Linked DNA regions of Homo sapiens: regions 2, 3 and 4 are each reported to be linked to region 1. The links are microRNA targets in miRTarBase. Many come from high-throughput screens and were not tested one by one. Region 1 holds a microRNA gene; each other region holds the end of a gene's coding sequence.
What was found. The annotated mature microRNA hsa-let-7g-5p reads UGAGGUAGUAGUUUGUACAGUU and lies in region 1 at 3,429-3,450, opposite strand. An mRNA with a match to its seed (bases 2 to 7 or 8) in the 3' UTR can be bound and repressed. Matches are read on the target gene's strand: a 7mer-m8 pairs with bases 2 to 8, a 7mer-A1 pairs with bases 2 to 7 and ends in A, and an 8mer does both.

Region 1 (7,378 bases):
AGCCTCCCAAAGTGCTGATAACAGGCCTTAACCACCACACCCAGCTGAAATAACTCATTTTGTATAGCCTTGATTTTCTCATAAAAGGAGGGACAAAGTCATCTATCAAGAATCAGGAGGTCGGCCAGCCGGGTGCGGTGGCTCACGTCTGTAATCCCAGCACTTTGGGAGGCTGAGGCGGGCGGATCAGGGACCATCCTGGGTAACACGGTAAAACCCCATCTCTACTAAAAATACAAAAAACTAGCGGGGCTTGGTGGCGGGTGCCTGTGGTCCCAGCTACTCAGGAGGCTGAGGCAGGAGAATGGCGTGAACCCAAGAGGCGGAGCCTGCAGTGAGCCAACATTGCACCACTGCACTCCAGCCTGGGCGACAGAGCGAGACTCTGTCTCAAAAAAAAAAAAAAAAAAAAAAAAAAAAAAAAAAAAGAATCAGGAGGTCAAGAGGTTGAATAATTGGGAAGACTGGAAAGCACGTCAAACAACTGCATCAACTCTTAATTACAAATAGTACATTTGTGAACATTAATTTGAATAAAAACAAGCAAAACATCTACTTATCATGAGCCATCCTTTGTCTGAAACCAGTTACCACTGGTTGCCACCTTATTTCACCTTTATTTCAGCAACACAAATGGCCTGCCCAACTGGAAGTGCAACTTTTTTTTTTTTTTTTTTTTTTTGAGACAGGGTCTTGCTCTGTCACCCAGGCTGGATGGAGTGCAGTGGCGCCACCTTGGCTCAATGCAGCCTCTGTCTCGCGGGTTCAAGCAATTCTCGTGCCTGAGCCTCCGAAGTAGTAGGAATTACAGGCGCACACCACCACTCCTGGCTAATTTTTGTATTTTTTGTAGAGACAGGGTTTCACCATGTTGCCTAGCCTGGTTTTGAACTCCTGCACTCAAGCAATCTGTCCTCCTCAGCCTTCCAAAGAGCTGGGATTACAGGCATTAAGCCACCACGCCTGGCCTGGAAGTGCAATTTCTAACAGGAGGCTCTCAGGCCATCTCCTGTCAGGGCTCCATACCAATCGAAACCATCCTGGGTTACTGTACATTTGCAAATGGATGCAGGAAAAAATACCCCAAGTGATTAAAATATTATCCAGGGGAAAACGTGTTTAACATTCAAAGAAAAGTTGAAAAATTAGAGAAAAAAGTAACTAGGGGCATTGGGGTGAAGAACAGAGAGAAGCAACCTGCATTACAATACAGAAAAAGGAGATAAACTTCTTGATTTTAAAAAAAGGACTTTCTTTTGCATTCTCATTAAGATCTTTAAATGGAACATTTTTACATAGGGGCCCACTGAAATGGGGGCCACATATATTGGAAGGCCTCATAAACACAAACAGTCCTTTATTAAGGGATATGTGAGATTTGGTATTCCTAAATGCCAAATCTAATTTTTACTACATAAGTTTTCACTGAATATCTTTAATCCACATTTTTTCTAGTTTTATATGTATATATAAAACTAGAAATATATATATCTAACTAGAAATAGATATACCTATAACTAGAAAAAATATATATACATATATATCTTTGAGACGGAGTCTCACTCTGTCGCCCAAGCTGGAGTGCAGTGGCGCGATCTCGGCTCATTGCAACCTCTGCCTCCTGGGTTCAAGCGATTCTCCTGCCTCAGCCTCCCGAGTAGCTGGGATTGCAGGTGTCCACCACCATACCTGGCTAATTTTTGTATTTTTAGTAGAGATGGGGTTTTGACACGTTGGCCTGGCTGGTTTCAAACTCCCGGCCTCAAGTGATCCGCCCGCCGCGGCCTCCCAAAGTGCTGGGATTACAGGTGTGAGCCACTGCACTGGGCCTAGTTATATTTTAACTGAGGTATCTCTGAACACCTACCTCTGCACCTCTATAACCTCAGTAAATCAAGAGTTGACTATTTAAGAGAAGATGAAGAATGCCAAGCAGTAGTGAGGAAGTAGCTTCAGTTCACTAATAAGCTCTCTCTAGCCTTCTATTCTCTGGGTAACCTCAGGGATAAAAGAACTATCTGCTTCTATAATACGTGGGTCTTACCTTTTGCTATGTCCAGGAAAGTATCTGATGTATTTGTTGTCATGCAAGGACAAGTAACGAATAGTATCTGTAAAAAGACAAACAAGGTATGATGATATCATACTATTTAAAAGAAATTTACTTTACATTTTCATCTTAAAAAGACAAGGTCAAATAATCCATTGTATTCTATATCCCAAGCAAGGCATGAATAAATAATGGTGAATAATTCTACTCTGCAGCTGAAGAGTGGGTATGTAGATTTCACCTAACTCAAAAGCAGAGTTCTTAAGTTGACAGCATAGAAAGCAATGTTTGAAATGACCTTTTATTACCAATTTGGTTTCTTCATAATTACAATGCAACTCCCACCCTGCAAATATACCCTGGTCAAAAAACAAAAACAAGTAAAGCACACATAATAATTTTAGATACTGGTCTAGTGTCCACAGAATGGCAAACCTTAAAGAAAAATATGTGGCTGTTGAGCTAACAGACTTAAAGAGGTGAGCAGCCATGGCAGTTAAACTGAAGATCAGGTTGAACCCTGGCAGCAATTTTTGTCTAGAGTTCTCCATCAGTATGTTGACCCACCCTCAACTCATTTGAACATTCTTCAATTGGACACACAAATTACAATGAAAATAAACAAAACGTCAGAGAAGTGATGTCAAGATCTGGGTTAAAAAGATCTTAAGACATTAAAAAAATCAAATTCTTATACCAATGAGTAATAGCAGTGAGATTTTGACAATATTAAAGAAAGGAACAATCAGAGATTTGTGCTTGTGGAAAAATAAGACACTCTTAACCAAATGATTCTATCTGAAAGAGTAAACAAACAAAAAACATGGTGGCGGTAGAGAAATGAAGTGCCATAAAGAATAAAACTGCAAAATAGAAAAGTATTATCCCCTTAAAAAGACTAGGAATAAGGAAAAATTGTTGAGAAACAGCTAAGGGAAAATGGTACCAAAATGCAGAAAGAAAACCATAGAAAGAACATTCTGAAGGCAAACAGAACATAGGAATAAAGGGGTTGAAAGCATCGAGTCATCCCAGGGGTTCACAGGGGTGCTTTCTAATAAGAGGGCATTTAACTTGGGAGGGGGAATAGGGGAATAGGGATATTTGTATATTCCATAACTTGAACACTACACAATTTTCCTTGAAAACATCTTCAAACTTCTTGAATGACAACTACGAAGTATTTCTAGTTATTCTACTGCTAACAATGACTCACCTGCCCTAAGAAGAAAAAGACTTCCTCCCCATTACCTGGTTTCCCAGAGATGAGCAGGGTGACGCCATCCTCTCAGCCCCACTTGGCAGCTGGCGCGCTGTTCCTGGCAAGGCAGTGGCCTGTACAGTTATCTCCTGTACCGGGTGGTATCATAGACCCTCAAACTGTACAAACTACTACCTCAGCCTGGAATCAGGCAAAAGGAAACGGAGCGCTGGAGGAACTCTTCAGGATGCACTTGAGACAGGAAAGGGAACATCCTCACAGCAGAGGCTTGGCAGCAAAGCTACAAGTGCCACACATTTGCCTCATCTTGCACCACATTTGGAGAATCCTCATTTAATCACTCAGAAAAACATCCCAACAGAAGAAATAAACCAGTCATTCGGATGATCACATAGACATGTTTCCTCAGGATCCTAAGGTTTTACATTCTTTTCCAAAATCATTAACTACACTGCTTCCTTAGAAAACCACTTCTGAAATACAGGCATGAAAAGTAGAAATGACATACTTAACTAAAAATCAATACAGGCAGAAGAGTCTCATTAAAAAAAAAAAAAAATGGAAAAAAGGACTTCCGCCCATTCTGCTCTGAGATAGGCACAGCCAAAATAGCAGTATAAGCTATCCTTGTGGAATGACATTAGAAAAATCTTTTTTGTTTTTTTGAGATGGAGCCTCGCTCTGTCACCCAGGTTGGAGTGCAGTGGTGTGATCACCCTAGACCTCCAGGGCTCAAGCAATCCTCCCACCTCAGCCTTACAAGTGGCTGGGACTACAGGCGCGTCCCATCACACCTGGCTAATTTTTGTATTTTTTGTAGAGACGGGGTTTTCCCAAGTTGCCCAGGCTAATCTCGAACTTCTGTGCTCAAGTGATCCACTCTCCTAGGCCTCCCTAAGTGCTGGGATTACAGGCATGAGCCACTATGTAGCCACCGGCCTAAAAAAAACCTTACTGCAAAATGTGAGATGATCATCAATAATCCACTGAAATAAGTTTAAAAACAGAATCCTGGCCGGGCGTGGTGGTTCACACCTGTAATCCCAGCACTTTGGGAGGATGAGGCAGGCAGATCACTTGAGGTCAGGAGTTCGAGACCAGCCTGACTAACATGGTGAAGTCCCAACTCTACTAAAAATACAAAAATTAGCCGGGCGTGTTGGTGGGCACCTGTAATACCAGCTACTTGGGAGGCTGAGGCAAGAGCATCGCTTGAACCCAGGAGGCTGAGATTGCAGTGAGCCGAGATTGCACCATTGCACTCCAGCCTGGGCAACAAGAGCAGGACTCTGTCTCAAAAGAATAAAGAATAGGCCGGGCACGGTGGCTTACAAGGTCAGGAGATCAAGACCCATCCTGGCTAACATGGTGAAACCCTGTCTCTACTAAAAATACAAAAAATTAGCCAGGCATGGTGGCATGCACCTGTAGTCCCAGCTACCTGGGAGGCTGAGGCAGGAGAATTACTTGAACCCGGGAGGCGGAGGTTGCAGCGAGCTGAGATCGCGCCACTGCACTCCAGCCTAGGCAACAGAGTGAGACTCTGTCTCAAAAAATAAAAACAGACAAACAAAAGAAAATAAACAAAATTAAAAAATTAAAGAATTCTAACATGAAAATAAGTGTTACAGTTCAGTTACCAAGACAATCTGTTAACTTAGGATTTATCTCGAGACATGCAGGCAAAAACAGAGATTGTTTATTATAGAAAGAAACTCACAAGTTCAATTTCTAAAAGTAACTCTACTCTTTAGATCAAAAAACGTTCCTGGAATCAGAAGTGACTAAGGTTGGGAAAACACCAAAACTGTTCTAACTTCCCTTAAACTATCATAGTTCAAGCATTTGTGAAACTTTTCTCAAATCTCTATCATTTTAAAAGAAAAAGTCCTGTTGTTTATCACTTGCTGTGTATCAAGTGTTCTTTCCTTTTATTTGTTCTAAAAGTGTTCTTTTTGGAGATGGAGTCTCACTCTGTCGCCCAGGCTGGAGTGCAATGGCGTGATCTTGGCTCACCACAACCTCTGCCTCCCGGGTTCAAGAGATTCTCCTGCCTCAGCCTCCTGTGTAGCTGGGATTATAGGCGTGCACCACTGTGCCCAGCTAACTTCTGTATTTTTAGTAGAGACAAGGTTTCACCATATCGGCCAGGCTGGTCTTGAACTCCTGACCTCAGTGATCCGCCCACCTCAGCCTCCCAAAGGTTGGGATTATAGGCGCGAGCCCCTACGCCCGGCTTTAAAAGCGTTCTTTTAAGTGTCAGGAAGTACAAATCATAAACACAATTAGTTGTTTCCTTTTTCCACTCCCCACTCTGAATTGAAGACTTTTCATACTCAGTCCCAAGTCCTTCAAAAGTGCCAATGGCTTGCTTCCAGCATTCCTTCAGTCAAAACAATGCAATTAACATTACTAACATTATATGAAAATACTTAAACTAAAGTAGTCACAAAGCAGAAGTAGTCACAAAGATTCCATGAACTATTTAACAAAGGAAACCATGACCTTAACTTCCTAAAAAGGCTTGCTTACCGTCTATTTTGTTAGAGCTGTAAACAACTGTGTTTGCTGCATGAGTGTATCTGATGAGGTCCACACCATATTTCTTACTGTACAGGGTTCTCTTTGGTCTGATAAGAAAATAGAGACAGAAAATCATGAACATTCTCCATCATCAAAATCTGGGATCTCCACATAAAGAGAAGCACTTGAATGATGTGGCAAAGGTGAGGATTTTTGGTAAGTTCTAACACTGGAAAGAAACAACTTCTTCCAAAAGGGAAAAAACAACGCTCAAGCAACAGCCATCTGAAGAAGCTTTCCACCTTAGAACACCTAGTGGCAAGGTTAGGTGGGAAGTAAAAGTAAATCTGGGGATTCAATTCAGTCTTTACTACAATGTTCAAAAGCTTTGAGAAAAAATACAATCATGTGCCATGTGATGACATTTTTATCAACAACAGACAGCACATAGGGTAATGGTCTCATAAGATTATAATAGAGCTGCCCTCTACAACCGATGTTTCATTTTTTAAATCCCTTAAACTGTTTTACGGCACCTTTTCTATGTTTAGATACACAAACACTTAACGCTATATTATAATTGCCTACAGTATTCAGTACTGTAAAATGCTGTACAGGTTTGTAGCCTAGGAGCAATGGGCCATACCAAACAGCCTAGGTGTGTGCAGATTATACCGTCAGGTTTGTGTAAGTACACTCTATGATGCTGCTGCAACAAAAACTCACGTGATGATCCCCATCTAAGTGATGCATGGCTGTACATCTACTTGGGAAGAAAGGCACACAAAACAAGTCTTAACTTACAACAAAGAGGGATATGAGAATATGTCAAACCCAAGAGGCCAAACTTTTCTTCTCAAGACATCCATTTAGAAAGAAGCTCTGTGTTTTTTTTTTTCAAGACGGCAGTGATTCCTCAAAACTGAAACCAGATGCAAAACTGCTTGCCTTTGCTAATGTAACCTGCTCTTGCAGAAGACATCCATCCTTCCTATCCTACAGGTCAAAAGCGCTTGCTGAGCCTTTTAGAAGGCAAGCCTAACTTTCTCTAGCAAAACCAGTTAAATAGTTCCTTTGCTTTTACTTTAAAGCAAAATCACACATTTCTGGCCACAAGGTGGTGGCTCACATCAGTCATCACAGCACTTTGGGAGGCCGAGCCAGGCAAATCACCTGTAGTCAGAAGTTCGAGAGCAGCCCAACATGGTGAAACCCCGTCTCTACTAAAAATACAAAAATTAGCCGGGTGTGGTGGCACACACTTGTAATTCCAGCTACTCAAGAGGCTGAGGCAGGAGAATTCCTTGAACCCAGGAGGCAGAGGTTGCAGTAAGCCAAGATCGTGCCACTGCAATACAGCCTCTGCGACAGAGTGAGACTCCACCTCAATAACAGACAAAAAATCACACATTTCCAAGCTAGAGGTTATCAATCTCCATTTGTTGAAGTTCCTTAAATGTCTCCCTTTACAGAACCTTGAAGAGCAAGGCTAAAACTGGTCTCAACAGAACCTTTAACCAAAAACTCTAACACATACTGGTTAAGTTAGAAAAATTTTAGGCTGGGCGTGGTGGCTCACGCCT
Region 2 (7,378 bases), not on the chromosome of region 1:
GGCAGCTCAAGTCCTCGGCTGACTACCTGGCCGAGACGAAGGTAAGGGAAAAGTTGGGTGAGGGCAGTCAGTGTGGGGGCTGTTACATGAAAAAAAATTCTAGGGTGGGCAACGTGGCTCACACCTGTAATTCCAGCACTTTGGGAGGCTGTGGTGGGAGGATCCCTTGAGCCTAGGGGTTTGAGACCAGCCTGGGGAACATAGTGAGACCTCCTCTTTATAAAACATGGAAAAAAAAATCAGCTGGGCACGGTGGTATGGGCCTATTGTCCCAGATACATGGGAGGCTGAGGCAGGAGAATTCCTTGAGCCTGGGAGGTCCAGGCTACAGTGAACTATGATCATGCCACTACACTTGAGCCTGGGTGACAGAGCAAGACTCTGTTTCAAAAAGAAAAATCTATCAGACCAGAAGAATGGAGTGAAAAGAACAAAAAACAGAGGCTGGGTGTGGTGGCTTACGCCTGTAATCCCAGCACTTTGGGAGTCCGAGGTGGGTGGATCACGAGGTCAGGAGTTCAAGACCAGCCTGGCCAAGATGATGAAACCCAGTCTCTACTAAAAACACAAAAAATTAGCTGGGCGCAGTGGCAGACGCCTGTAATTCCAGCTACTCGGCGGGCTGAGGCAGGAGAATCGCTTGAACCCAGAGGGCGGAGGTTGCAGTGAGCCGAGATCCCACCACTGCACTCCAGCCTGGGCAACAGAGTGAGACTCCGTCTCAAAAAAAAAAAAAAAAAAAGAAAGAAAAGAAAAATATTTTTTTCTTTTTTTTTTAAGACGGAGTCTTGATCTGTTGCTCAGGCTGGAGTGCAGTGGTGCGGTCTCAGCTCACTGCAACCTCTGCCTCCCAGGTTCAAGAGATTCTCCTGCCTCAGCCTCCTGAGTAGCTGGGCTTACAGGCACCCACCATCACACCCGGCAATTTTTTTGTATTTTTACTAGAGACGGGGTTTTACCATGTTGGCCAGGCTGGTCTCAGACACCCGACCTCGTGATCCACCCACCTCGACCTCCCAAAGCAGTGAGATTACAGGCATGAGCCACCGCGCTCGGCCAAAAAAATATTTTTTTAATAATTGAAAAAAAAAATTTCTGGGCTAAACCTCAATGAGGACTGGAACTTGGGGGTCAGCCTAGGGCATTTTCACAGCAAGAAAGAGCTGCATGAGATCAAATGTGGGACTGGTCAGCAACTGCAGCAAGATAGATCTGGGGGAGAAACTGCAGGGAGAATTAGATGTTTGGAAGTCAGATGTGGGGGCTGCTCTAGCAAGAGAGATCTGGGTCATACTATAAGTGTGACAGGACGATTGGGGCAGCTTCTCTGCCAGCTTCAGCTCCGGGGTCAGCAACTTGTGTGGCAAGAGGGATTAGACCACAGAGAATATATGAGGTCTGAGATTGGCTATGAGAATTGCGAGAGAGGCCAGGTGCAGTGGCTTATGCCTGTAGTCCACGCACTTTGGTGGGGGCCAAGGCAGGAGGATCACTTGAAGTCATTGTGGGCGACATAGCAAGACCGTGTCTCTAGAAAAAATTTTTTTTAAAATTTAGCCAGGCATGGTGGCACACACCGGTAGTTCCAAGCTACTTGGGAGGCTGAGGTGGGAAGATCACTTGAACCCAGGAGTTGGCAGTTGCAGTGAGCTATGATTGCACCACTACACCCCAGTCTGGGCGACACAGCAAGACCCTGTTTAAAAAAAAGGATCTAAGGCCAGGCACAGTGGCTCACACCTGTAATCCCAGCACTTTGGGAGGCCGAGGTGGGTGGATCACCTGAGGTCAGGAGTTCGAGAACAGCCTGGCCAACATGGTGAAACCCCATCTCTACTAAAAATACAAAAATTAGCTGGGCATGGTGGTGGACACCTGTAATTCCAGCTGCTCAGGAGGCTGAGGCAGGAGAATCGCTTGAACCTGGGAGGTGGAGGTTGCAGTGAGCCGAGATTGTACCACTGCACTCCAGCCTGGGCAACAAGAGTGAAACTCTGTCTCACACACATACAAAAAAAAAAAAAAAAAAAAAAAAAAAAGGATCTGAGTGAGACCTCAGGTGAGTCTAGAGGTTTGGGGCAGCAGCCAGTCTGCTACCTCTGTGGCTTTGCCCCTCCCATCTGTGCAGCAAGAGCCTGGGTTAGACAGCAGAGGGGACTAGGAGTTTGAGGTCATAGGTCTTGATTTCACAGCAAGAAGGGTCTGGATGGGACCACAGGTGAGACTAAAAGTCAATGGCAGTTTAATAGCAGGGGGTGACAAACTACTATAGCAAGAAGGGTCTGGGTTTGACCACCAGGAGGCCTGGGATCAAGTGTGGAGCTGTGGCAGTAAGAGGGACCTGGATTTGATTCCAGGGAGGACTAGAGATTCCGGGCAGCCCTTCTGCTAGCTGCTGGTAGGGGCTGCACCCATGGTGCTGAAGGGGACTGGAGGTCTGGGGCAAGGGGTGGAACTTGGGCCAGTGATTTGGGTTCGATTAGAGGGGCTTGGGTGTGACGGATCCAGGGTGGCCCTCCTAGCAGCCAGAGAGCTCCAAGGCAGATCATGGGCAGACCTGGAAGTCGGGGCTACATGTGGGTGCCACAGCAGGAGTGCCCAGGGCCCTAGCCCTGCACAATGGTCAACCCTGCCCCCTTCTCCATGCCCCGCCAGGTGCGCCCATTGGAGCGCCGCAAGTATATGCTCAAGTCGTTGGACCAGATTGAGACAGTGAATGGTGGCAGTGTGGCCAGTCGGCTAACCTTCCCTGACCGGGAGGCGCTGGCGGAGCACGCCGACCTCAAGAGCATGGTGGAGCTGATCAAGCGCATGCTGACCTGGGAGTCACACGAACGCATCAGCCCCAGTGCTGCCCTGCGCCACCCCTTCGTGTCCATGCAGCAGCTGCGCAGTGCCCACGAGACCACCCACTACTACCAGCTCTCGCTGCGCAGCTACCGCCTCTCGCTGCAAGTGGAGGGGAAGCCCCCCACGCCCGTCGTGGCCGCAGAAGATGGGACCCCCTACTACTGTCTGGCTGAGGAGAAGGAGGCTGCGGGTATGGGCAGTGTGGCCGGCAGCAGCCCCTTCTTCCGAGAGGAGAAGGCACCAGGTATGCAAAGAGCCATCGACCAGCTGGATGACCTGAGTCTGCAGGAGGCTGGGCATGGGCTGTGGGGTGAGACCTGCACCAATGCGGTCTCCGACATGATGGTCCCCCTCAAGGCAGCCATCACTGGCCACCATGTGCCCGACTCGGGCCCTGAGCCCATCCTGGCCTTCTACAGCAGCCGCCTGGCAGGCCGCCACAAGGCCCGCAAGCCACCTGCGGGTTCCAAGTCCGACTCCAACTTCAGCAACCTCATTCGGCTGAGCCAGGTCTCGCCTGAGGATGACAGGCCCTGCCGGGGCAGCAGCTGGGAGGAAGGAGAGCATCTCGGGGCCTCTGCTGAGCCACTGGCCATCCTGCAGCGAGATGAGGATGGGCCCAACATTGACAACATGACCATGGAAGCTGAGGTGAGCCGGGTGCGTTCAGGATACGATTAGGGTGGGAGGAGGCTCAGCACACACTCACCCGTGCTCAGGATATGATTAGTGTGTGAGGAGGCTCAACACACACTCACCCATGTTCAGGATACAATTAGGGACTTAGGAGGCTCAGCACACACCTAATACCGTCAAGATATGATAAGGCTCAGCACTTACTCAGCTACTTCCAGGCTGTGACAAAAACTCAGGGCACAGTAATCTACTTATAAGAAGCTTGATAAAGAGCCTGGGCAACATAGTGAGATCCCGTCTGCACCAAAAAATTAGAAATATTAGCTGGTTTTGGTGGCATGCACCTGTAGTCCCAGCTACTCAGGAGGCTGAGGTGGGAGGATCACTTGAGCCAGGGAGGTCGAGGCTGCAGTGAGCTGTCATCACATCACTACAAAGGGGCAATAAAGGCCCAGCACTGGTAAGACCCTAGCACATGCTCACCCTCATCAGGAGGAGGTGACAGAGGCTCAGCAGACACTAATACACTAACACTGCTTGGCTGATGCCCCTCTCTCTTCCCCCACAGAGGCCAGACCCTGAGCTCTTCGACCCCAGCAGCTGTCCTGGAGAATGGCTGAGTGAGCCAGACTGCACCCTGGAGAGCGTCAGGGGCCCACGGGCTCAGGGGCTCCCACCCCGCCGCTCCCACCAGCATGGTCCACCCCGGGGGGCCACCAGCTTCCTCCAGCATGTCACCGGGCACCACTGATGGTGATTCCACCCCTGCCCATCACTGGGGGCTGCGCTAGCTGGGCTGGCATTCCCTCCCAACCTGAACTGCTCCTCAGAGCCATCTCCTGAACCCACAAATTATTCTTACAGAAAGATAGTTATCCAGAAATTCTCATTCCCCGTCTGCGGTGCGGTGCGTGCCTGCACACCTCTCCTAAACACAGCAGGGCTTTGGAGTCTGGCCCATGCTCCTTGGCCAGAAGGACAGCAGGAAAGGGGGCTGCACCCCGCTGGCCCTGCGCTCGCCCTTGGCCCTGCTGCCTCTGTCTATTTCAATATAGAACTGTTCAGCAGTCCTGCTTCAAGCCTGCTCTCACTGCCTGGGGCTTGGACTGGCCCTGGGGGGAATGGGGGCTCCAGGCTGGCACCCAGTGACTTGCTCTGCGATGCTGGGCCCAGTTGACCACTGGCTTAGGCGGGAGCCTGGGCTGCTGTCACACTAGGAGGGAAAAGCTGTGCTTGGTTGACTAACCCTTGTCCTAAATACGCTATGTGCTTGGCGTGTTGGGAATCCACCCTCAGAACATGCTGTGTTCAGTATGTGTTAATCAAGTTTGCCGGATGCTGGGGTCTCCTTGTCTGTTGACCTGTCCTTCCTACATGTTTACAGGGTTGGCATGCACTCACCCACATTTGGGACGTGCTGGGTGTAAATCCACTTGGCAGGCCTAAATTCACACTTGGTGCACACTCTGGTGCTCAGCCATGCTTGTTCACCCTTGGGATGTGGCAATGGTTTGGTCCCTGCTGATCAATCTGGGAACATGCTTCTCTGCAGCACATACCCATGCTGGCTACATGAGTGCTAAGTCCATGCCGGGCCACAGGGTGGCACGCTGCATGCTCAGCACAGGTCAGCCCATGTACACTACATGTTAAGGGCTCAGCACATGCCAACCCATGCCAGCACATGCTGAGGGCTCAGTACATGCTAACCCACACTGGTCACACACTGAGGGCTCAGCACATGCCAGTGACATGTTGAGGGCTCAGCACAAAAAGATGTCCCCACCAGAGGCCCATGCCAGCTGTCCCCTACCCCTGCACCCCATCTCACACCACTCAGTCAGGCACAGGCTGTACAGACAAGTTATTTACTTATTATAACCCTGGGCCCTTTTTGCCCTGGAAAGTGGGGGTGGGCCAGGGGGCCAGGCCCAGCATGCACCCCCATTTCTTTGGGGGCTGATCCCTCCCCCAGCTCTGCTGGGTCCCGGGGCCACAGCGTCAGGCCGGTGGGGGTGGAGGTAGAGGTGGGAGAGCAGGGGAGAGAGCCTGAGGAGCCACAATGGGGCAGACAGAAGCGGGGGCGCGGGGACAGGGACCGTGACCCAGAGCACCTGGGTCCGCGGGGGCCCAGCAGGCCTTGGCCTGCCCACTGGATCGGGCCTCAGAGCAGGCGGCAGGCGTTGCCCACGCTGTCAGCTGAGGTGTCAAGGTCATGGCTGTAAGGGGAGTCCCAGTCCCTCAGGAAAATGGCCTCCAGCTGGCTCCGCAGGCCGCCCCTCCCATTCTGCGTCACCAGCAGCGAGGTGCCCGCCGTCTCCGTGAAGTAGTTGCCAGACCAGTTGGAGGTTCCTAGAGAGGAATGGGTGGAGCATAAGGGCACCCTCGGGGGGCCGCCCCTGGTGTCTGAACCCCCTCTTCTTCAGCGCCCCGTGGTGCTCAAGACACTCACCGATGTAGGTGGCGCGTTCAGTCACCATGTACTTGTTGTGGTTGACACGGGCATATGGGATTCGAGCCTGGGCCTCATCCGCGGGGACCACAAAGAGTTTCTGAGTGGGAGGGGAGGATGGGAAGGAGTGTGAGAGGCAGGGGGAGTCGGAGGAGCCCCGGGATCAGGGAGCAGAGTGTGGAGCGAGATCTGTGGGACTCCACTGCTTCCCACAGAATCCTCGGGGGCCAGAACAGGGCCAGGTGGAGGGGCCCTCTGAGAACGAAAGCTGAAAGGGAGGCCCCGGTGGTCTCATTTGCAAAACACTGTTCCCGGCAGAATGGCTCCTGTTCATTCCTGAGGTCTCATCTCAGATGCCCCCATTTCCAGAACATCTTCCTTGGCCCTTCCCGCTAGGGCAGAGGCTTCCTCTGGGCATCCCCACCCCAGCCCTGACCCCTCTGCCTGTGCCCCCCGACCCTGGCCCTGACCCCTCTGCCTGGGCCTCCTCCATCCCAGCCCTGACCCCTCTGCCTGTGCCCCCCCATCCCAGCCCTGACCCCTCTGCCTGTACCTCCTCCATCCCAGCCCTGACCCCTCTGCCTGTGCCCCCAACCCCAGCCCCGACCCCTCTACCTGCCCACTCCCCCAGTCCTGGTCCCAAACCCTCTCTCTGTGCCCCCCACCCCAGCCCTCACCCCTCTGCCTGGGCCTCCTCCATCCTGGCCCCGACCCCTCTGCCTGTGCCCCCAACCCTGGCCCTAACCCCTCTCTCTGTGCCCTCCAACCCGGCCCCGACCCTTCTGCCTGTGCCTCCCCATCCCAGCCCTGACCCCTCTGCCTGTGCTCCCAATCCCAGCCCTGACCCCTCTACCTGCCCATGTCCCCATTCCTGGTCCCAACACCTCTCTCTGCACCCCCATCCCGGTCCCAACCCCTCTGCCTGTGCCCCCTCATCCCGGTCCTGGCCCCTCTCCCTGTGCCCCATGACCCTGGCCCTGACCCATGGTTTCCCCACAGTGACAGGGCTCACTCTGGGCTGCCCTTGTCATTGACAGACGAGTCCCATGAGGGCTGTGTCCCTAGGACTGCCCCACACAGGGGCCAAGGGGTGGCTTGGGGCAGTACTTACCACCTGGATGTCAGAGTGGGTATGGTTGTCACGCAGGGCAGCCAGAGAGAGCAGGAAGGCCCGCATGGATGGCTCCGAGTGTCCCCAGCAGCTGATGAGCAGGCGCACCTTGACGCCACGCTCGTAGGTGGCCCGCCGCAGCCCATCGTCAATGGCAGGCCAGAACCTGAGGACGGGTGTATAGGAGGTGGGGCAGGATGCAGAGGGCGGCTGTGTCCACAGGCTTTGCCCTCAGCTTTGGGGAACCAAGCCTGGGCCCTGCTTTAGCTATTGAGAGGACTTCCTCATCGCTGGCTCCCAGACCCTGTTCCTGTCTCCATAAATCCCAC
Region 3 (7,378 bases), not on the chromosome of region 1:
GAGGCTGAGATGGGAGAATCGCTTGAACCCAGGAAGCAGAGGTTGCGATGAGCCAAGATCGCTCCATTGCACTCCTGCCTGGGCAACAGAGCAAGACTCTGTCTCAAAAAATAATAATAAATTTAATTTAAAAAAGAATAAATTGGGGCTGTGATAAAAATTAAAGAGAAAAAAAATCACTCCTTATTTCCACAGCTCAAAGATAATAACTGCTGGCAATTTTTTAACATGTTTTCTTCACGTAAATACATGTAATTGTCACATATCTCCCAGAGAGTCTGACACCCAACACTTTACTCCTAAATGCCTCGCCTTTTCCATCCTGGGAAGAAGCACCGGGCAAGGTGGCTTACGCCTGTAATCCCAGCACTTTGGGAGGCCGAGGCAGGAGGATCACAAGGTCAGGAGATCGAGATCATCCTGGCTAACACAGCAAAACCCTGTCTCTACTAAAAATACAAAAAATTAGCCGGTCGTGGTGGCAGGCGCCTGTAGTCCCAGCTACTTGGGAGGCTGAGGCAGGAGAATGGCATGAACCTGGGAGGCGGAGCTTGCAGCAAGCCGAGATGGCGCCACTGCACTCCAGCCTGGGCGACAGAGCGAGAGTCCACCTCAAAAAAAGAAAAAAAAAAGAAGAAACACTTTCTCCTATATAACCACAATGACAGGATTCCACAGGAGAAAATTTTCAGTCATTCCCTAAGACTTAGTCTTTCCTCTGTTTCCACAGTTGTCCAGACAACGTCTTTGGTGGATAGCATTTTTTTTTTCTTTTTGTTTTTTGTTTTTTTTTTTTTTGAGACCGGATCTTGCTCTGTTGCCCAGGCTGAAGTGCAATGGCGCAGTCTTCGCCTCCTGGGTTCAGCCTCCCAAGTAGCTGGGACTATAGGCACGTGCCACCACGCCCGGCTAATTCTTGTAGTTTTAGTAGAGATGGGGTTTCACCATGTTGGCCAGGCTGGTCTCGAACTCCTGACCTCAAGTGATCCACCCGCCTCGGCCTCCCAAAGTGCTGGGATTACAGGCGTGAGCCACCACTCCCAGCCAAGGTGCCACACTTTTAAATAGCCAGATCTCGTGAGGACTTACTGTCACGAGAACAGTACCAAGAGGATGAGGCTAAACCATTCATGAGGAATCCACCCTCATAATCCAGTCATCTTGCACCAGGCCCCACCTCCAATACTTGAGATTACAATTGGAGGATTTGGGCAGGAACACAAAGCCAAACTATTTCACTGGCCAGCGACCAGAGAAGGCTCCTGGTTGGGGGACATCTGGGTTAAGCCTTCAAGAGGGATGGCCAGTGGGAGGCCAGGCACGGTGGCTCACGCCTGTAATTCCAGCACTTTGGGATGTGGAGGTGGGTGGATCATTTGAGTACAGCAGTTCGATACCAGCCTGGCCAACATGGTGAAACCCCATCTCTACTAAAAATACAAAAAAATTAGCTGGGCATGGTGGTACACGCCTATAATCCCAGCTATTTGGGAGGCTGAGGCACGAGGATTGCTTGAACTCAGGAGGTGGAGGTTGTAGTGAAGTGAGCTCACGCCAGTGCACTCCAGCCTGGGCGATGGAGCGAGACTCCATCTCAAAAAAAATAAAAGGGATAGCAGATGGGAATTCTCTAGGAGGATGGTGGGTGCAGGGTAGGCATTGCCCACAGAGGGTAGAGGCTGAAGAGCCACACAGGCAAGGGTAGCCAGGTTACACAGAGGCTAAGGACGGTCTCTCCTGTTCTAGATGAGTGTGGCATCGTGGCCCAGATCTCAGAGCCCTTGGCTGCTGCAGACATCCCAGCCTACTACATCAGTACTTTCAAGTTTGATCATGCACTTGTGAGTGTCCAGCGCCAGACCCCTCCAGGGCAGGGCCGGGGTGGGGAAGCAGGTTCCTGGGCTCACGGGCAGGCATCTGCCTCCTCTACCCCTGCACAGGTCCCCGAAGAGAACATCAATGGTGTCATCAGTGCCCTGAAGGTCAGCCAAGCAGAGAAGCACTAGAAGGGTCTCTTCTGCTCCTCCCTGCCGCCGCCCGGGCCCAGCCCTAACCCTGAAGATTGATCTTGCAGTATTTCTCTACAGACTGGAAAATCAGCCTGGGGACCCTGAGGAAGGGGCCTCTGTGGGAGACTCCCTCGATTGCCAATCCCTCCAGGGCAGGGGCCCACGCCAAGGCCTCTCCATGCCCTCCTGCCTTCCCGGAGCCCCCCGACCCTCCAGAGAACGACCTTTCTCTTCCCTACCTCCCCCACCCCGGAAAATGCTTTCGGAGGCCCAGGGAGCTTGTGAGCTGATCCGCCTTCTCATCCGGCCTCACCCACGGCCAGGGGCAGATGCCGAGGGAAGCCGGTCCCTCCTGCGAGACACCGGTGTGCCAGCTGTCATGTCACCTTGCAGGGCTGGGGCTGGCGGGGTGGGGCCGAGTTTGGGGTGCCCTGGAGGGTTTGGGGGTGAGTACTGTGGTCACTGGTCTCTGCTTCCATCAGCTCAGGGCTGGTTCCCTCGGAGTGGAGGCCAGCGTGGCCCCCTCAGGTCATCGGGGCTGGTGAGGCTCAGACAGGAACCCAGGTGGGATCCCCGAGCTGGGAAGGACCCAGACTCCCCCTGTACCTCGCCTGCCAACCACAGGGCCTGGGCCCGACTCCCAGCAAGACTGCCAAGAGGGCCCTGTCCAGACCCTCCCCCACAAGCACTCAGTCCTTGGGGGAGGAGGGAGGGTCCCAGGAGACCCACCAGCCTGGAGCACCAGCTCCTGTCCCCTCGGCTCTCCCTGGACCCGACTTGGGCAGGTAGAGCCTCAGCTTCCCCCAGTAGGGACATCCCTGGCTTTCCAGGCCTGAGGTTTCTTAGGTGGTGTCCCACCTCCCCAACAGACAACTAGACCAGCATAGGACTCCCCGCCGTCCTCCTCCCTCCTCTGCCCCCAAGTCACCTGCCTGCCCACCCGCCCCTTGGCTGGGGGCTGTGGCATTCATGAGTACTTGACCCAGGAGGCAGCTTAACTGAGCCTTAATAGAGAAAACCATACTTTGTTTTAGTTTTTTATTTAATGTATTTGCACCCAGGGTGCTCTTGGCGGTAGTTTCTGTTTGGCAGGGATAGGACCTGTTTGAGTTCTGTCAAGGGAGCCTGGAGGCTCTGTGTCACTAAGCTGGTGCTCTGTGGCTCCAGGGACAGGCAGTGGGAATCGGGAGATGTCACAGGAGCCTGGGCCCTCTCTTCTGAAGGGAAGCTAGGAGCAGAGATCTGTTACAAGACGCTGGAGCCGCTGGCACCCCACATGGGAACTCCCACCAACCAGCTGTAGTTCTATCTGAGCACCGGAGGGGGTGAGGGAACCCGAGGGCCATGGGGAGGTGGACAGCCAGGTGGCAGGCCAGCTGAGTGGTCATGTCCAGGAGGCATGGGGTTAGCCGTGGTGTCCCTTCCAGTGGGGTGGTTTTCTGAATGAGCAGGACCAAGGGCCCCTGTGGTTTTGGCTCTGGCGGGGGTTTTTTTTTTTTTTTTTGAGATGGGAGTCTGGCTCTGTTGCCTAGGCTGGAATGCAGTGGCACGATCTTGGCTCACTACACCCTCCTCCTCCCAGGTTCAAGTGATTCTCCTGCCTCGGCCTCCCAAGTAGCTGGGATTACAGGCACGCACCACCACGTCTGGCTAGTTATTGTATTTTTTAATAGAGACGGGATTTCGTAACATTGCTCAGGCTGGTCTTGAACTCCTGAGTTAAGTGATCCGCCTGCCTCGGCCTCCCAAAATGCCGGGATTACAGGCGTGAGCCACCACACCCAGCCGAGTTGTGCTGTTTCTGTGGTCAGAGGAGAAGGGATATTTTCTAGTCCTGACAAAGTGTTCCCTGCTTCTCTGAGTGGGACCCTCTGAGCCCTGGAAGCCCACCAGAAGGAGAAGCTGTTCTTTAAAATCCTTGTGGGTGTTGAAGGCCCACCACATTAATTAGAAACCAACTTTTTTTTTTTTAAGTTAATTTGTTTTGCACAAAACTCCAGAACAAAACTCGTACATTGCTGGTCCCAAAAGGGAGGTGGCCAAGTGGGGCAGGGCTGTGGTGGAAGCCCTGAGTCCCCTTTCTGACCTTGCAAGGCCTTGATTTTCCTTTCTGTCATTTCCCCCTGACGGTGTCACTTCTCTGCCTTTCCTTCCCGCCGTGCAAGTGTGTCGGCCCCGTGACCCCAGAGTCGTGTGTCCCCTAGACTTCCTAGGACGTATCTATTGTACACACCTATAAATACCTGTGTTTTATGTTGATAGAGATATATACTGTAAATAGCATATATACTTGAGCAATATATATGTTAATATATACTGTGTGCGCAGTCCGTGGACACAGCCCCCCGCTGTGTGTGCACACGTGTATGGGCGTGATGGCCTCCACCCCGCACCGTCTGCCATACACGCGGGCACATTTGAGCCACCATATATTTTTAATTCAAGTATATAGGCAATACGATTATTACAGAAGCCGATGGGTTCCCTCAGACCTGACTTGAGAGAACAAAGCCAGCAGCTCAAAGAGCCTGTGACATGGGACGTGGGAAGGGTGCTGAGAGCCCGCTGTGGCGTGGGTCATGCCTTCTGCACCCCACTTTCCCCAGGCAAGATCCCTGGGCGCCCTTATTTGGGGGGATGTTGATCCCGAGGGAGGAGTATTTGGAATTTCTTGCTTTTAACCAGAATGCCCCCTCTCCCCTGCCCTCGCCAGCAGCCTCACCCTGAAGACCTGGGCCTGCTGAATGGGCCACACGCTGCCTGTGTCCTGCCTCCGTGGGTGGCACTTTTTACGCAGGCAGCTTCTCTGTTTTTTTTGTTTTTTGTAACCTGCAAGCTTAGAAATCTCAGGTTGTGCTCCTGGGGCTGCTCCTGGGGACTGGCCTCGTGTCATGGAGAAAAGCATGTGTGTCGGGGCGCGCTGGGGCCAGGGTATGGCTCTCCGCCCTGGCTGGCTCTGCAGGGGTGGTCCCTGTTCAAGCCCGCTCCGTGGGAGCTGCCCCCTGGGGACCCTGCTCCTCGGTCACAGGGGGCCCCTTTAGTTTTCCCATCCCCATCCTGCTCGTGTAAAGCTTGGTTTATCTTCTCGGCGTTCTGTGTGTAGCGTAGTCTTGGTTTGGTCTCCACAGCTCTTCGGGGTGGGGTGTGAGTGTGGTTTTTCCCAGGCAGGGGCCGTCTGCCCTTGTCCCCCAGCTATCTCCTGGTCTGCTGGGTGGGAGGGTCTCTCCAGGCCCCAGACCCCACTTGGAGGGGCATGTGTTTCTCAGAGGGGCTCCATCCGCAGTTGCATGGAACTCCTTACCTGTTTGCCGTCCATCCCCCGGAGGTAATCAGAGGAGTGGGCCTGTTGTCTTGGCGCTGGCGGATGGGGCAGGTGCCTGGCGGGGGAGGAAGAGGGCTCTCTATGATGTGGAATTTTTTTTTTTTTTTTTTTGAGACGGAGTCTTGCTCTGTCGCCCAGGCTGGAGTGCTGTGGCATGATCTCAGCTCACTGCAGCAACCTCCACTTCCTGGGTTCAAGCGAGTCTCCTACATTGGCCTCCCAAGTAGGTGAGATTACAGGCACTCACCACCACACGCGGCTAATTTTTGTATTTTTGGTAGAGACGGGGTTTCACCATGTTGGCCACGCTGGTCTTGAACTCCTGACCTCAAGTGATCCACCCACCTTGGCCTCCCGAAGTGCTGGGATTACAGGCATGAGCCACCGTGCCCGGCCTCATGGAATTTCTAGGGGTGAGCAGGTGACCCTGGGGCTGCCACTTGAGCTCCTGGAGTGTGTGTCTTGGCCCCTGTGTGGTTCTCCATTAAGAAAAGCTCAGATAGTCTCAACCCCACCCTCTCCCCTTGCTGCACTCAGAGTACCAGTGGGAGCTGAAGGATGGGGAGGAACAGAGCAGTGACCACCCCTCCCTGCCACTGATAAGTTCTGCCTCGTCGTGGGGCTCCCCTGGTTCCCAAGACACCCCTTCCTCCCTCAGCCCGTCGTCCTAACCCAGCAAAGATCTGGGCATTGCTGACTCTGCACCTCCTTCCTCCATGGGCATCTCCAGGACCGCCCTCCTTCAAGGGGCACTGCCCACACCACTGTCCTCAGCCCGAGGCATGCATCTGAGCTGGAGAGGCTTGCAGGCCTGACCCTGGTAGCTTCCCCTCCCCAAGATTCAGAGGCGGGGACCCAAAGCCTCACTCCAAACCACTGGCATTCTCACCTCCTCTCACCTCCAGGCACCAGGCTGCTGGTGGGAAAGGAAGGAGCTGGGGGATCAGAGGCTTCCAGTGTGGCCTCCGGAAGCAGCAGCGTAGCCAGGGTGACATTTGTTCAGCAGGAGGAGGCTTGGTCTGGAGGGGCTTGCCCCTCTGAGGTGACAGAGGATGCCCTGGAGGTCAGGAGAGAAGACTGGGAAGACAGGAAGGGCCAGGCCCCTGTTAAAGCCCAGGGCACTATTTGGTGATCTTCAAAGGTGAACACAGGCCACCTCCCACTGGCCCCCTCCTCCTGGCCACATTTTCCAGGGATACCCTGGGGAGTCCTAAGGCCACCCTGGGCCCCTTTCTGAGCCTAGAGATCTGGATGTGGTGACAACCAGGGCTTTTCCCAGCCCCAGCTAAGAGAGGGGGCTTTAGGGCAAGAGCACCTCAGCCCTGCAATGGGGGGATCTTTTTTTTTTTTTTTTTTTGAGACAGGCTGGAGTGCAGTGGTGCGATCTCGGTTCGCTGCAACCTCTGCTTCCCAGGTTCAAGTGATTCTCCTGCCTCAGCCTCCCAAGTAGCTGGGATTACAGGCACCCACCACCACGCTCGGCTAATTTTTGTATTTTTAGTAGAGACAGGGTTTCACTATGTTGGCCAGGCTGTTCTTGAACTCCTGACCTCAGGTGATCCGCCCACCTTGGCCTCCCAAAGTGCTGGGATTACAGGCATGAGATACCCCGCCTGGCCAATGGGATTTTTGACGCCACTTCCTGAGTGAAGCGCTTTGCATGGGGATGGGAAGAAGCACCCCCAACCTTCTAGTCCGCTCCGAGCAGGGCCTGGAGCATTGGAGACATTGGTTAGTGTAATAGGCAGAGCCTGAGTGAGGCCGGGGGGCTTCTCCAACAGAGAAAAGACATTGGCTTTGGGTACCATGCTGAGGGAGGGGGTTAGGCCTGGTGGGGGCCCATTCAAAGGAGGCCGGGCTCGGTGGCTTAGGCCTGTCATCCCAGCACTTTGGGAGACCAAGGTGGGAGGATAGCTTGAGGCCAAGATAGCAAGACCAACCTGGTCAACATAGCAAGACCCTGCCTCTACAAGAAAATAACGAAAGAGGCCCCAGGGAAGGAAGCCAGCCAGGAGCAGCCTGGAGCAGAGGCAGGAGCCTGAGGCCT
Region 4 (7,378 bases), not on the chromosome of region 1:
CTACATCGCCTACCTGATGGACGTGCTGGCCAAGGATGCACAGTCTGGCGATCCCGAGGCCTTCAAGGCTGAACTCAAGAAGGCGGATGGCGGCCGTGAGAGCAAGCGGAAAAGGGAGCTGGTGAGTCCTGGGGCTTGCATGCTCCAGCCAAGGGTGCAGGAGCGGTGAGCAGCCTCAGGCCATGCAGGTAGTCGAAGGAGGCTGTGTTGTCCTGTGTCCGATTTGGAAAGGTTGGGAAGAGTTCTGAGATGGTTGGTCACAGCGTGCGATCCTGTGCATGGAGGGAGGCAGATTCGTCATAGAATTCATTTGTAATACGGGAGAGTGTTTGTAATACTGAGTGAATAATCTGTTTGGAGCCTCGGACCCTCCAAAAATGCACACACCACAGGTTTTGCTTCCAATTTGGAGAAGTCCTGATTCATTCCTGGGCTCTCCTGGAAGCCAGGTTAAGAATATGTGTTAAAGTTCTTTACTTTGAGTTTGAATTTATGTGCCCGGGCTCGGTTCCTGTTTTCAAAGGGCCTTTGCTGGACCGGCTAGTCTACTTCCATCATTGTATAAATAGGGAAACTGAGGGCCCAGAGTGGGTCGGGGCAGGAAAAGCACCTATCTGAGGAGTCCAGGGTGGAGGTGAGGTAAAACAGATCGGGTCTTCTACTCAGTCCAGGGCCAGTTCTGGTTCTCCCCATGGACTGGTTCTGAGGACGACTTCAGTGGCTTTGCATGTAAATAAGAGCCACTTCTTTTAGCTTTGGAGAGCGCAGTCTCGTCTTGGCCTTCTTGATCCTCTCCGGTTAGGGTGACACTTCCTGGCACTCGGTCTGGCTGTCCGGGGCTGGGGGCTTCTGAGCGCTGGGTTTTCAGGCTGGCCAATCAGTTTCTCTAGGTTGGGGGGCTTAAGGCCGTAGCGGAGTGGAGCCAGCTGAAGCGCCCCACCTGGTTTATCCAACCTGCGGGGGCCTGTGGTAAACTGACGAAAGCTCATCCAGGGACGAGGGAAAGATAAATAGGCATCGAGTCTCTAAACGGCTGCCCCGGACTGGGGATGGTGCAGGCCGGCTTCTTTCGAGGTGCGGCGCCTCGAAAGAAGTTGTTATTGGGCGGATCCCGGCCCCCACGCGTCGCCGCCTCCTTCAAGTAGCACCGCTTGGTTCCTGCTGAAAGAGCGGGAAGGAGGACGCTAGGCCAGCTCGACTCCCCGCTCTTTTACCTCCGTATCTGAGGCTCCCAGCTCCGGCTTAGGGGGCCCCAAGCCTGCATCCAAGCCCTGATGTTTAAACCAGGTTGGGAGGCTGGCGGAAGTGTGTGGGGTGCAGCGAGAGCGGGAGAACCGTGGATTTCCACCCCTCCCTTCCAATATCCTGGGATCTCCCTTAGGTGTCCTAAAGCCAAATCAACGCGCGTCAGTTTCACCAGACGCAGAACATTTTCCTTACCAAACCTCCCGAAGCTGCCCAGCCCATCCCGGGTCCCAGGAACTCCGCGCATAAAGGCAAATTTACGAGCCTGTTTGCCTATTTCGCAAACAGAAATCCGTCACTTATTTAAAGACTCCCAGTTACTGCTCCCGACACCTTCCCCTCCTCCTCATCTTACCCCATGCCGGGCGATCGGAGCAGAAAAATTAAAACCTGTCTCTCCCGCCTCTTTTCTTCTGTGTGTCCTTTGGCAGCAGCAGCACGAAGGTTTTCCTCCTGCCCTGGGCCCAGTCGAGAAGAGGATTAAAGGACGCACCGGCTGGCCGCAGCAAGTCTGGGCGCTGGAGTTAAACCAGTGAGCCGAGGCCCGCGCCGAGGACCTGGCCAGGCCAGCCACTCCTGAAGCCCCGGGAGGAGAGGAAGGCAGCGGCGAACGCCAGGCTCTGGGCTCCGGCGACTGGTGCTACGCATCCCGCGGAGCTTCTGCTGAGCGCCGGCAGGTCGTCGGCTGCAACCACACACTTGGATCGCACGTGCAATGTCCTTTGATTTTTTTTAATACATTAAGAGAAAGAGAAATATATATATATCCACCCCCAGCCCAACCGAGGGCGGCCCTTGGCGGCAACATGCAAGAAGGAGGGACTGTCGAACCCAAGGGCTCAAAGACGCACTCTTCCACCCTTTTGGAGCGAATTTAGAACCTCAGCCCTATCTCCATTTCCCTATCTGGCTCTTTCTCTCTTGTCCCTCCATATGATCCGCCCCGACGCCGTCTTCTCTAATTAAAATGCAATAAGGAATCAATTCTTTTCTGCCTGAGAAAGAGAACCAGACGCAGGAAGATGAAAGGCTGCCCTTTGTTCTTCGAATCGTGGTGGTTTTATTTTATTTTTCTTTTTGTCGCTGCACTTCCTGTTTAGTTCCAAGGGAAACACTTTCTCTCTTTCTCTGTCTCTCTCTTTTCTTCCTTCTTTTCCTTCCTTTTTGTTTCTATCTAAATAAAAGCTTTCCCTGTGTTGGAAAGTTTTTATGTATTTAAACTACCTACCATGCCTGTTGTGCTCAGGTGTTTGTTCATCCTGCCATCCCCAACCCTTTTCTACCTCAAGTCTGTGTGACCACTCACAGCCCCCCTCCCTTCGCCAAAGCAGTGTCTATGCTCTTGATTAATAAAACATTTTCTGAAATCATCTGAAGCCTGTGTCATGTCTCAACCGGGGTCCCTCACCGACTCCCATGGCTTCTGCTAGGTGGAAAGCCTCTGTTCCTGCTCCTCTTCTTTTGATAAACACGAAACCAAACTTGAAATCAAGGGAAGCCGGCAGATAAAGAATGTATTTCAAGAACAAGAGCAAAGTTCTCTTTAGACTAGAACGGGAGGTGGGGGTAACTTATGGGAACGGGGAAGAACAAAAACGGAAACGAATTAGTCTCAGAGGGCCTGGGCTCGGGTTTTTGTGCGTTGAGTATTCGTGCTTGTCTGGAGGTTAGTATGCCCACTGGTGTCTGCAAAGAGTGGTTTGGAGTGTTTATTGGGAGGGAAGGGGGCCTAGCACACAGGTGAATCCTATCCCTGGGGCAGGGTAGCTCAGGAGAGGGGGTGTTGGTGGGGAATATGTTCATGTATGTGAAATTCTCAACATATAGATGTACATGTGACAGTGCAGCAACTCATACGGAGCCTGAGGCTGTGCAGGGGCCAACAAGGGTCTGCTTAGTACAGCTCCAAGCACACAGTAAGGACTTGACAAGTCACAGCAGCTATTATTATTTTATACCTGAGTAAAATAAGCTTGTGAGTGCTTATATGTTAAATTGAGGTATTTAGGTTTCTCTTTAGCAACGAAGCACTCGACAGAAGGTTGTGAGAGCATATGGATTTGTGCAAAGGGATGGGGTGTATGTGTGTATGCGTGCTCATTCGGGCACTTGTGCAGGAGAGCCAGTCTTTGTGTTCTCTCATGCGCACCCATGACTAGGTGTGGTGGGTATAAATTCGGTGCATTTGCCAAGGATCTTGGATGCGTATTGGGCTAAACTGGGGCGGGCAAACGCAGTGGTTTATACTTCCAGGAATAATAATGTACGAATACTTTGGTTGCGTGCAACTGTGTGCTAGGCACTGCGCTAAGCACTTCTGTGTCTCCCAACAGCTCCCATGGTTGCCCCACGGAGCGCACGCTCTGCAGCGCCTGAGGGTCTGCGGCGCTCACTGCGAAGGAGGAGGGGAGACCCGTGAGGCTGTCTTGGAACTTTCGCTCTGCGCACCTGGAGCCTGAGCGCTCGGCTTGGGAACAAGAAAGGAGACCTCAGGCAGCTCCGGGGCAGGGCCTCGTGGGGCACCAGGCGTGCCCCAGGCGCCTTGTCCCAGCGTCGGGGTGAATATGGGACCCCATTAGTCTTGGCTGTAAACACCGTAGCAGGGGCCGAGAGGCCACGCGGGCCTTTCCGGACGCGAAGGAGTTAATAAAAGGTGTTTTATGGGCGCTAGGAAACAGTGGGGGAGGTGTGAGCTTCTCTCTCTACTCTCGCCCCCCTACTTTTTTCTTTTTTCCCTCTCGCCACCCGCCGCCAGATCAAACAGGCCCGCGATTTAACTAGGGCAACACTTGGCGGTAATGAGCCTGTCCGACGCACCCCTTCCTCGGCCTCAGTACCCGGCCCGAGGCCCCAGGGCCCTTGGGGAGGAGCAGAGAGAAAAATCAAAGTTTCTTTCTTGTTGTTTTGTTTTTCTTTTCTTTACCTTCTTTCTTTCCGTTTCTTTCTGGGAGTCCGTTTAGAAATTCCGGCGCGCATGGAGAAACAGACTCAGGGAGGGAGGTGATCTAAGCCCCACAGCACGGAGGGAAGCTTATCTAGATTCGAACCCAGGACTCCAACTTCGCTCACACACAAACCTCTGGCTATACACAGGTCCCAGCTCCCAGGACTATTTTTAGCACCGTGAAGTATCCTAGGCACGGGAAGAATGCGCACCCTGGTCTAGCTTTCTTATAGCCGGGGAAAGAAGAGGGGGTGCTGAGGGAGACCCGCCAGCGGCCGCCAAAGCCAAGTCTGGCATAACCAGGCCTCTTCAGAAAACCCAATCCTGCTGGCCCCAAACCCTCTTTGGGAAGAGAGCCTTGGAGCCCTAAACTCGGTCTCAGAAACGTGCAGTCCCTGAACCCGGGAGCCGAGACGGAGCCGGCGCCCATTGAGAGGGTCACTGGATAGTCCCCCACTCTCCCCACGCCTGACTCCAGCGGCCTCCCACGCCCACGCCACATCCCCAGCTCCCACCGCACAGCTGGAAAAGCCGAGCACAGAGAACGGCTCGGAGCTGCCCCAGGTTTCACAAACCATTCTGTGCTGAGGGTCTGCAGACTAGGGGTCCAGCCCTTCTCGCTGCCACCCTGGCTCTCCAGGCTCCCACCCCTCCTTAGCCCTCCCTTCTTTGAAAACATCTTTAGAGTCTAACGTTTAGTTTCTTCTTCTCTGCCCAGGTTTCAACGAGGTTTGTCAGACACCTCAAATCAGCTGTGGCAGAAGCAGGGTCATTATTTATTATTTTTGAATTAAATACATCTTTTTTAAAAAATGGGAAAAATGGAATGGTTACCAACTTAAAAGTAAATTCCAGGAGTTTACTGCAAGGAAATATTGATGTTACAAAACGTTAACTATAGGACTATTCTATTAAAGAGTGAAACACGAGAAAGAACCTGATGTCCTATAATTACAGAACTGGCTCAATAAAGCCATCAGTACAAGTGGGTTACTATTCAGCCATTAGAAAAAATGTGGGAATTGACATGGAAATTGTTCACGATATATTAAGTGAGAAAACCTCCTCCCATATTACACCAAACACTGTCCATTGTGACCCTTTTCATGTAAAAATAAAAAAATATTATTCGTGGAGAAAAATTGGAAGAATATACATCAAAACTTTCACACCTTTACCTCTGACTTGTGGGAATAAGGGTAATTTTGACTTTTCCTCTTGCTTAGCCATATTTTTCTTAAATGTCTTATAATGAATAAGTATTACTTTTGCAATAAAAATTAAGCTGCAATTTCCTCTGTTGCCAGCATACTTTCAATACACCATTTATTTAACATACATTTATTGTGTGCCCACCATGTGCTAGGCACTGTGGGCATAAATATAATGAAAAGATCCTAATAACGATCAATTAACATACAACAGAAAATATTTGTCCTGAAGAGTTTATTATTCCTCGTACACAGCAAATAGTCTTTTTTTCTTACATTTAAAGTCTATTGATGAATGGAATAGTAACAGCTAACATTTATAAAGAAAAGTATTTAAACTCAGCATGCATTATTTCATATAAGCCTCACAGGGTTCCGTGAGGTCAATATTGAGGGAGCTGAGGCGTAGAGAGGTGAAGGATTTTGTCCAAGGTCACATGGATGGCAGATAGGACTTGTATCAAAGTGCAAACATGGCTACCTCCAGAGACCTGTTTCCCCCACATCTCGGAGCACCTCCAGGTGTGTGTGTGTGTGTGTGTGTGTGTGTGTATACATACATATGTGCCCAAATACAGTTTCTCTCAGTCTGATCTTCCTTAGTCCCCAAAGTAAGGTAGAGAAAAAAAGAAGGAAGGAGTTACGTGAAAGGATCTGGGATTCAAATTCCAGCATTCTCCTGGAACCCTCTTCCCCTGTCAGGGCTCTGAGTGGATCCCATCTAGAAAATGAGGAAAAGGGTAGGCTCCAAGGTGGTTTCCTGTTAGTAACATTCTGATTCCAGGAATCTACTTTCTCCTGGTGAGGAATTCAGCACGTTATTCTTTGCAGTAGTCTCTGGTGTTTGCCTGGCACATTTACCTTACCCGGGTACTTCCACTTTTATAAGTGCATTTTCCTCCCCATAATCTGGAAGACAGCCAAGGCAGGAATGATGCTCCCCATGGACAGATGTGGGAAAGGCAAACCCAAGAGAGTTGATGTGACCAGTTCAGGGTCACACAGCCAGTCAAAGGCTGAGCCCGGATTAGAAGGTGCGCCTCAAACCCAGGGTTCTTACGGAAAAGGCACTGGATACCTTCTGTCTATGCAACCATTGGTTAACCTTATAGTCTTGCTAAATCTTCACAAAAGAAACGAAACTAAGAAATCAGCCAATCTCATTTTTAAATGAAGAGTGACTGAAGAGAAAAAATATGCACGTTCTGAAGTGTCTGAAACCAGCCTCCTGATTTAAACCTGATTTGTTAGAAACAAAATTTTTTCAGCTGAGAGAGTTTTTACAGCTGAGCTCTCCCAAACTCATAAAAAACTAGGTTTATATGGGAAATCGTGAAAGACTCTTAACTATAATACACAGCATCTAATGTAAGCAGACGTAGACACTATATAAAGCTCCTACAAATGTTATTAAAACAAACAGAAATGCACATTTATCCCCACAAAATAGACAATGGAAAGCATCGGACTTTAGAGGAGTCCTGAAAGGCTTATGTTCACTGAAATGTGAACACACCCCATAACACTGAGACCTCAAAGGTCTTTACCCACCATCCAAGCATGTCCCTCATTTACAGAAGGAGAAACTGAGGCTCACAAAGGAGAGGGACTTGCCCAGCATCTCAGGGAAGTTGTGCCCTTCTCTTCCCTTTGTTTATTTAATACCTTCTACTTTTAGTGCAGGGAACAGAACAATACAAGGGCCAGGAGTCCCTGCACAAGTTACTGAACATTTCCCAATCTCAGTTTTCTTCACAAGTTACTGAACATTTCTCAACCTCAGTTTTCTTATCTACAAAATGAGAGCAATCATTCCCCCAACATCCTTGGGTCTGTGAGGATGGAAAGAGATAAGGCATGCAAAGCACTTAGCGCGTTGCCCATGGTAGAGCTATTTTTATTATTTTATTTAATCCTCATAACAGTCTTGTGAAGCATTGAGGGTTTCTTTTGGTTTGTTTGCTGGCTTTGGAGACTC

Region 2: miRTarBase lists PLD3 as a target of hsa-let-7g-5p. Seed matches in the 3' UTR shown: 7mer-m8 at 5,505-5,511.
Region 3: the mRNA of CASTOR2 is a reported target of hsa-let-7g-5p. Seed matches in the 3' UTR shown: 7mer-m8 at 2,245-2,251.
Region 4: the mRNA of HAND1 is a reported target of hsa-let-7g-5p. Seed matches in the 3' UTR shown: 8mer at 2,525-2,532.

Annotation. Positions count from the first base shown.
Region 1 is chr3:52,264,908-52,272,285 of GRCh38, forward strand. MIRLET7G (microRNA let-7g) reads right to left here and starts at 3,454; the gene lies at 3,371-3,454. WDR82 (WD repeat domain 82) reads right to left here. Exons shown (of 9, transcript NM_025222.4): 2 at 5,805-5,902; 3 at 2,045-2,111.
Region 2 is chr19:40,376,446-40,383,823 of GRCh38, reverse strand. PLD3 (phospholipase D family member 3) reads right to left here. Exons shown (of 13, transcript NM_012268.4): 11 at 7,050-7,215; 12 at 5,939-6,038; 13 at 5,339-5,838. The coding sequence ends at 5,651. HIPK4 (homeodomain interacting protein kinase 4) reads left to right here. Exons shown (of 4, transcript NM_144685.5): 2 at 1-41; 3 at 2,656-3,501; 4 at 4,055-4,553. The coding sequence ends at 4,237. Among named protein-coding and RNA genes, the nearest start is that of HIPK4, 10 kb to the left of the region's middle.
Region 3 is chr7:75,022,694-75,030,071 of GRCh38, forward strand. It overlaps CASTOR2 (cytosolic arginine sensor for mTORC1 subunit 2), which reads left to right. Exons shown (of 9, transcript NM_001145064.3): 8 at 1,747-1,841; 9 at 1,941-7,378. The coding sequence ends at 2,006. It also overlaps a transcript of RCC1L not described here. Among named protein-coding and RNA genes, the nearest start is that of RCC1L, 47 kb to the right of the region's middle.
Region 4 is chr5:154,470,209-154,477,586 of GRCh38, reverse strand. It overlaps HAND1 (heart and neural crest derivatives expressed 1), which reads left to right. Exons shown (of 2, transcript NM_004821.3): 1 at 1-121; 2 at 1,677-2,615. The coding sequence ends at 1,781. Among named protein-coding and RNA genes, the nearest start is that of HAND1, 4.3 kb to the left of the region's middle. RefSeq lists enhancers at 686-1,540, 3,211-4,182, 4,183-5,154 and a silencer at 1,695-1,882.